Regions from separate parts of the Homo sapiens genome. Here region 2 is linked to region 1. Evidence: fine-mapped expression QTL. Tissue or cell type: whole blood. Region 1 holds a variant in brackets; the other region holds the start of a gene. Each region is shown on its reference strand, or each on the opposite one.

Region 1 (4,391 bases):
TCCCACTGAGCCCTGCCATCCCTTCCATGTAGCTAGCTGGATTCAACAAACTCAGTTTGAAAAAGGGCTTTCCGAAGTCCCTATCCACTTGAGTTAGATCTACTGCAGAATACTGCCTCTTGAGCACTGAAAGATATCCATATTCTTTCACAGAAATATATACATCTTTTTGAAAATGTTTGGTTGGGTTTGTGGTCGGAGGCTTGGCATGGTTGTTTGTTTGTTAGAATGTGCCTCCTTTGGGAAGAATGCAAACCAGGGGCTGTATTGGGATGCTGAGTCAGGCTCTGCCCTCAGTGACAAGGGGTCTTTGTCTTGTTCATGGTTCTCCCCACACACCTGCATACACACAGATACCCACAAAAGTGCATTTTGAAAACTAATAAAAATTGCACTGAAAATATTTAACTTATGCAAATACTACTATAGCAGAAAGTACACACATATACAAAACAGCAGCTATCTTTTCTAGAATCTGAACAAAATTTTCTGTTGATTATATATACAGAATTTGCTGAACATTTGCCTTGGGAAACCAATAAACAATGCAGTTATTGGTCCACTGTCAGCTTAGGCTTCTGTTTTGAGATGTTTTACCTATAGTGGAAATTGTCATCTGTACCTGGCATGTTTCTGGGTGTGTCTAAAATGAGCATGTCTCAAGAAATCTTTCCAGGTTCCTACATTCTCAACCAAAGTTGCTCAAGTGAGAAAGCAACTCAGGATATCAAGCTACCAGTTAGAATTTCAAGTATGACAAGCCTGCTACAAGAGTGTATCTTATCTGTGGCCTCTAGGGTTTCAGAAGCCAGAGGGCTCATGCTACCGCCAAAAGCTGTGGCTTACCAACTCGTATCACCCCTTTCATTGGAAGTTTCTTAAGATTCCAAAATGTGAGAATTATTATCAGGTGTTCTTTGTCTAATGATGTCTGATTGCTCTGCATATATGAATGAATGCCTACAGCTCTTCGGAAAGGAAAGCAAAGAATAATGTTCTTATGCTGGGCGGGGGTGGAGGGTGGGGACTTAGGGGGTGGTTGAATGTTCAGCTCTAGTAGCTTGCATTTCCTGTTTAGTGGGTGTGAGGGGTTTACACAAGAAAGTCTCAGTGTTACGCTAGATGGATAGCCTCATCGATCATGTCTAAGGAATCTCTGCCTAAAGATGATCAATTTGGCCTCTGCATACCACAAGGAGGTTTCAGTATTTAAGAACTTCGGGATCAACCATGTCCTAATTCTAGATACGTGTTTCGATTGTCTTGTCCTATTTGTTCAAAATTCCCTTCAAAGTTAAACAATTTATCAGGCCAGCTCATAGGACCCTTGAAGGAAAATTTGAAAAACATCTTATTATTCTAAATACTATTTTCTGTTTGCAGGAATGATATGAATTTGCAAAGAGACTTGGCATCTAAAGGTGGGGGGAGGCTCAGGAAGCCCTAGGAAGTTCATAAGAACTTTACAACTTAGTTTCCAAGTTCAGACTTCTGGTTCACTCAGCTACCTAGGCCATCATGGGTCACACAGCTGTGATAAAGTTACCTTTCCTATCTTATCTAGACATCTGATAATGTGGATAATGTGAGGATTATTTCTCCATCATCAAATTGATCTCTAAAGGAATTATACCAAACATACAGTCACAAAGTTCTCCCAAATTGGTGATCAGCTCTCTGAAAATTAAAATCAAATGGTATCTTAGGAAGTATGCTATTTTCTTAGATGTATCCAAACCTTAGAAATAAAAAGCCCACCTTAAATCCATCAATACAAATAAGCGATAACCATGATTACTTCTATGTTATTATACAGGACTTTAAATATACACTGAGGTGCCAGAACAAAGTCCTAGGCTGGTTGAATTCTTGTGTCCAGCTCCATCTCTGCCTCTGTCTCTTTTTAATGGAAC[A/T]GGCAGATGATGCATTTTCTAGACTTATTTCCCCTCATTTTGTTGTTATCAGTAATAATAATGACAAGGAAAATTGTAGATTATTTTATAGTTTAAGACATTGATCTTAATAGGAGCCTTCCCACATCTATAATCTTATTTAATTACTCTAATAAACTGGAGAAGAAGGCAGGATTATTCCCCTCCCCCACTTTGCTGATGAAGAAACAAAGGTTCTGAAGGACTACGTTCGTGGTCATAAAGCGGGAAGGGGAAGAGTGTGAGGCCAACCCTCTGGACTCCCTTCCGTGGGGCCCTTTCCACGAGGCTGCACTTTCTCAGCTGCATTCTTTGCCCACAAACACTACAGCAATTAGTACATTTATTTTTCCATATTGATACTATTTTTCTTTCCCTTTTGATCTTGCCCCTTTGGTTAGATGGTAGGCGATTTTAGGGCAAGATCTTTATCTGTTCGTTATTTACCGTTTGAACTTTCAGTGGGCTCATTAGGGGTCCAGGGACATTTGCTGATTGATGGCATGCACTGGACATGAGCCTGCTGGCTTTGACATTTTAAAACTGCACACTTCCCTCAGTGACAGTATGCCCAAGCAACAGGCCTCCCTGACATTTTCTCAAAACCAGGAAATGAAACTGGCCACCAAGAGCAAGTGACCGCCAGCCAGGGCATTGGTGCAAACCAAGCAAAACACACCACAGTGCAGGCAGCGCGGGTCACAAGGATGAAGGCATTCGATCTGCAGTTATCTTTGAAGAAATGTAACATGTTCCTTCCTCCCACCGTGGTTTCAGCCACAATCATCCTCCTGTTTTAAACAGGTTGAATTATGTTCCTATACAATATTTGTACACAAAACCCAACCTTAGACATGCTTTTCCCTATGATCTTGGTCTCTGCACACGCACGAGAATAGCCTTCTTCCATCTGAGTACTCAGCTCGATCCTGCTTAGCTTCCAAGATCAGATGAGGCACGTTCAGAGCACTGTGGACGTGGACAGCGCAGCCTCCTCCAAACGTTTTGGCTGAATTGGAGGACAAAGCAGGGCTGTTTAATATGCAAAACATCTTTTTCTCGCATTTTCCTTTCTATAGCTTCCCCTGTTTAACCACCCCTCTCCACCTCGCTTTTAACCAAGTCAAATCTTTGGCAAATGGTTTTGGGGATATTTTTCAGCACGTGGTAGCAAAGATATTTTCTGTCTGTGGCCTCGGAGCCCCTGGGCGCTCTGGGGAAGCTGCCATTGCACAGGTAGCAGTACTCTGAACCCCTGCAGCTCAGCAGCAAGCCCCGGTCATAATCATGTGCTCTGTCGCTCCTCTCCTCACTGTGCTGATTGCAGCCCAGATAGGAGGAGCATGTGGGAGCTGACTCCTCACTGAACAATGACTTGAGAGAGAGAAAGACAAGAACTTCTTTGCATATGAATGCATCAACATGTGCCTCTCTGGGTACCTTTGCTCCATGTGAAAGGAAGGGAGGCAGCCAAAGTGACCCTTGGCTAATTAGACAAAGGCAGATGGGCACAACAGAGAAAACTTCTGCTGGATCCAGTATTTGCACAGCTTCAGGGACTTTCAGCGCACAGCATCTTATATCACACATGCATAACATTCCTGCCAACTGAGTCCAAATGGCGAATGTGATCTTTGTAGCTTGACCTGTGACACCCAACAAATTCTAGGCAATGGTTGGATTTGCTGTCTGTGACTCACTTTGCATGTTTCCATTATTTTTATCTACTCTGGCCCACTAACTTGACCGTGTTCACTCAGCATCAGCCAGGTTCTAAAGAGTGAGGGGAAGCTGAGAAAGCTTGAATGGCGGAGTGTGTAGAGCTACTGAGATGCTTCCGGGACACCAGCAGGACACTAATCCTACTAGTTTTTCTCCTAGTGTGGATCCTGGACTTGCTGCCTCAAAATCACTTGAAGTGTTGTTAAAAATGAAGATTCCCGGGACCATTCCAGATCCAGTGAATTAGAATCTCTGGAGCTGGAGCCGAGGAATCAGCATTCTTTACACTCCCCAAGGGAATTTTGTGCAGATGTAAGTTTCAGAGCCACTGAGTTAGGTACTCAGTGAAAAAAAAAAACCTCTTGCAATCAAATTTGATTGGAAAACGCTGCAGACTGCATTGTGCGGCCCTTTCCCTTGGAGCTTCAGGATCTCCATTAGTATATTCAAGGCTCTGATAAGTCCTGATGCAAAGAGACTTGTTTAAGTTCCTTTGAATTTCCCACACTCAGTTGAACACAGAATCCTGTTTTGAGAAAGCAGCTTTGAGCATCCCTTGGACACATTTGAGAAGCAATGAGATGCTTTAGTAAGAGCCACTATTGCAAGTCGCTGAAGGACTCTACTTCTCTAGATCTGATTTTTCCTCTCTTTCTCTGCCACAAACCTCCCAAACAATTGTAAAAGGAAGTGTGCTTCTCTGGGCAAAACAAGGGCATGTCAAGCCCAAGAGATCAT
Region 2 (4,391 bases), not on the chromosome of region 1:
GTGTGAGTCTGTAAGTTCCTTTCTGTCCTTGACAAAGTCTGTCAGGAACAGCAAGTCCTCTGTGTGCTTTGAGCCCTTTGTGCTTGAGAAATCTCTTTCCATACTTGCAGCAAGCTGTGTGCCTGCCATGAGTCAACTGTGATGACAGGAATGGGATGGCCCTCCCGATGAGGAGTGGCCCTATCCTGGGGAGCAACCCCAGCTTTGCTACCCTCTCCTTCCTAAGCCCCAGGTCGACCCCCACCCTGAAGACTCTGGACAGACTTCTTCCGACCTCGGCTCAGGACCCTGCCCTCCCCACCCCTACTGACCCTCAGAATTAGGAAGAAGCAAAGTGCTCCAACTCCAGCCCCATTGGGCCAGTTCACCCACCCAGTGTCACTTGAGGCTAAGGCAATCATGCCCAGCCATTACATTTAAACTAGTTTCACAATCATAGCAAGTCAGAGGGGCTGGGCGGGGGAACTCTTTTCACCTTTTACCAGATACCCAGTAGCCCAGTACCAGACTCACTGCACTGAATATGCTCAAACAGTCCCTGCCCTGTTGCCACTAGAGCTGTGGTGTTGGAACACCCTGCTCTTGCCACTTGTTATTTCAGCTTGACCTGGGAGATTCCCTTCCCTTCCCTCCACCCCACCTGACCCCGCCCCCAAGTCTCCATCCTCATCCCCTCAGCACTCACCTGCCACATCCAGGTCCAGCTTGAAGTGGAAGGCATGTGTGTGCACCGTTCCCAGCACTCTTTCCCCCACACGGTTCCCAAAGAGGAGGCCCTCCTCTCCCCCTTTCAGGAAAGCTGTGTTGATATAACCCGTGGCATGGACCCGCCCTTCAAGTGCCCCATTTGGGTACAACACAAAGTCCCAAATGTAGTCATAGTTGCCCACAGATGACACAGACCTGACCACAAGGGCTGAGCTGGCCAAACCACCATAGAAATGATTTTGAAGGTAATTGTGGTGCCTTCGAAGGGGCAGTCCCTGGGCTTCCTCAAATACACACACAGCCCCTGGAAGCAGCTGGACTGCCCCTTTGCCCACTAATATATGGATGTCCACCATCGTGGCTTGATAGGGGCAGTCCACTCCCCGCACCAAGCCTCGGCTGTTACGGCCGAGTCCAAAGCTGCTATCCAAATAGCGAGTCAGCATCGTCTTGGGTGAATCGGCACCATAGATAGATACACACTCCTGGACACTGACTTCATAGGCTATTCGCTCACCCTGGAACCGAACATCAAAAATCCTCAGGCCGCTGAACACCCCATGGCCAAAGGTAAATGACCAGAGGGAGGATACCACCAGGTTTCCTTGCACACTGTACTGGGAACCCTGGGGCGAGAACTGAAGAGGGGGAAGAGGACCTGGAGAGTTCCGAGACCTCAGGGATGAAGCTCCATTTGGTGGAGGTAGAGGGACTCTAACCACTTCCAACCGGCCAGACTTAAACTCCCGTTCCAACTGGCCCAAGTCTGCATAGTAGTGCCCAAGGTAGAAGACCTGCTGGACAGTCCAGTGGGCAGGGTCCAGGGCCCTGTGGTCCAGTAGTAGCTCCAGCCCCACGGGGTGAAGGAAAAGACCAACCCCTGAGATGTTATGGTAGAGGGCCATCCAGGTAGCTCGGTCCCCTGAGCGCAAGCCCCGAGGGGTGGCATGCACAGCTGCCAGGGTAGAGCCATTGTAGTTGAAGGTGGACGACAGGAAGATGGGTGCCTTGGGTAGCTCCACCTCTTTCAGATGCCTCCACATCTGTGTAAACTCAGCTCTCAGCACCGGGCGACGGTGATAGGGCAGGGGCCCGCCGTGACGCTCCACAGTCACATCCCGCATGTACGAGGGGTGAGGCAGCGGCCCCACCACCAGCTCACTCACATTGGGTTGGGGTTGTCCACCAAAGAGGACGATGGCCAGTGCCTCCCGGGCAGGTGGGGGGCTCCCCCTGTCCAGGTGGGCCAGGGCTGCAGCCTTGGGGGGCAGCTGCAGCTCCACTGAGAAGATGCAGTTGTCCGAGGGCTGAGCCTGGGCTGCGTCCACCAGCCCTGGCCCCAGCCGCTGGGTCAGAAAGCGCATCACAGCTGTCAACTCCTCTCGGCTCAGGTCTGCAAACAGCTGGCTCTGGCCAGGGTGTGGCCAGGGCTGGGCCCTATGGGATACAGAGGGGCAGTGGGGAGGCTGGCTGGAACCACCTGGGCTGGTCAGCAAAACATAGGCCAGGGCAAAGATGGTAATGAGGGACAGTGCCAGGAACGCCAGGACTATCTTGAGATGCATGGTGGATGCTGAGAGCTGAAATCAGAATTCTAACAGCTGCTCCTTCCAGTTACTGACATCAAGTCGGGGTTTATATTCGCTAGGATGGATAGGAAGGGAGAAAACTCCACCCCATGGGTTGGGCAGGAAATTTCTGACCTTGATTTATGTAATTCTGTTCCAATTTTCTGTCCTGTGGTTTGGCCCAGGGCACTGCTTCCACATGCATAGCCTCTTCCTTGCCCCTGAACTCCCACTGGTAGCAGTCAGTACCAACTACTGATTTCCATCATTTAGACCAGATGAAAGGGAATCTGGGTTAACGATGCTAACCTCCAGTTTCCACCTGGAATGGGTCTCAGGAAGAGTACAAACCTCAGATGCCCAATTAAGTTCTGCAGCCTGCATGCAAGCACTAAGCTGTCCATTTTCCTACCTCCTGGCAGGAACTGCATCCCAACAGCTCCAGGATTCACTGCCATGTTCAGCAGTAAGCACTGAATTCTACTTGTTGCCTAATGCCAAGCCCTTGATTTGTAGTCAGGCCATTTCCAACCAGTGGAGTGGCTGAGGGCCTGGGCTTAGTAATCAGGTTTGTCCACCAATCCCAGTTCCCTCAGCTGTGTAACCTTAGCGGAAATACTTATCCTGAGTCTCAGTGTCCTCATCTGTAACAAATAGATACAACTATCCTATAGATTCCTGAAGATTAAATGTGATCATGCACATTAGGTACTTAACAGCCTGGCACAGGGGAGGCACTCACAAACCGCTAGCTTTTGGTAGTCATCTCTGAAACAGAACAGAGCAGCTGCTCCTCCATTGTTCAAGACCTTAAACTCTTTTTACAGAGACAACGAGGGGATCATTGGAAACCAGAAGGCTACTTGCAAGGTGGAAGATGAGGAAACTTTATTTCAGAGGGAGATAGATTCCTAGGCAGCCCTCCAAGTAATTTGAAAACCAAAACTAGGAGTCTCCTCAAGAAACTGAAGACATTATTCAGGAAGAATTAGTATAAGGTAAAGAAAATGACTGGGTAGGACGCGCCTTGAACCAGTTCATTCCTTACACATGGAACGATAGCAGCCTCTACTGGCAGTTCATGGGTATCACTCGGGAAGGAAGGAACTAGGATCTTCTGAAAGTAGGGAGAGAAGGCAGCTTAGGTCTGGGAAGAGCTAACTTTCCCATAATTCAGACTGAACACAAATGAAGCACCCAACCTTGCTCAGTAGGCAGAAGCCTCAGTCTTTCCACTATACTGGGGAAAAGATTCAGCTCAACTGGCATAAGGACACACAACAGGGTGGCTAGGTGTCCATGGAGGTGGGTGTCCAAGCGTGCACACATATGAGCATGAGTACATCCCTAGCCACCAGAGCATTGCACCAGGGTCTGCGGCTTTAGAAAGAGGTCAAAGTACCTGTATTTTTAATAATTTCTTGACATGGTAAAAGAATTTTACATTACGATCCATGGGTGATAGGGTGAGGAGGAGGGGCAGTGGAACAGTCCAACAAACGAAACGGGAAACTGAGAAACACATGGAGGGAAGGGGGAAGGGTTTTAGCTGGAAGGGATCTGGAGGGTGGGTGGGAGCACTGCCCAACTAAAATGCAATTGGTTTGTTACTGAGTACTATTCGTGGGAAGACAGCATCCTGACTCCCTCTCTACAGAATATTGGGAGTAAAAATGATGCATCCCCGGTGGAAATATTATTGGGGGTTGGAAGACAGAGACAGGAAAAATAAGTCAGAAACAGACACTAAGAGTCACTGGCAGGCTGACTGCAGGTATCAACTCTCCAGCCGTGGTAGAATAAAAGAGCTAGGGGCTGAAGGGGATTAACACAAAAGCTGTTAACAATTAAGTGATATCTCTGGAAGATTCGAGAGACAGGAGGCAACTCTTCTATAGTTTTGACTTGCCCAGCACATTTCCACATACACAAATGTGTATATGCACGTGTGTGCATGCACATACACATACACACCAATGATTGCTTTCCCCGGAAGCCCGACACTATAAATAAAGAGAAATAGTTCCCAAAAGGAAAGCCCAACATGAGCAGCAGCATCTGGACCTCACACTTGCAGAAACCTTCACCCCAACTGAAAACTGGCTGGGAAAAGGC

What was found.
Region 2: it holds the start of AOC2, and the variant in region 1 is fine-mapped to the expression of AOC2 in whole blood (TOPMed, PIP 0.98).

Annotation. Positions count from the first base shown.
Region 1 is chr11:128,732,797-128,737,187 of GRCh38, reverse strand. All of the region lies in intron 1 of FLI1 (Fli-1 proto-oncogene, ETS transcription factor), which reads right to left. Among named protein-coding and RNA genes, the nearest start is that of SENCR, 39 kb to the right of the region's middle. RefSeq lists enhancers at 2,594-3,139, 2,893-3,182. The variant A/T (reference allele first, on the strand shown) is at 1,914.
Region 2 is chr17:42,842,509-42,846,899 of GRCh38, reverse strand. It overlaps AOC2 (amine oxidase copper containing 2), which reads right to left and starts at 2,320. Exons shown (of 4, transcript NM_009590.4): 1 at 686-2,320. The coding sequence starts at 2,273. It overlaps PSME3 (proteasome activator subunit 3), which reads right to left. Exons shown (of 11, transcript NM_005789.4): 11 at 3,140-4,391.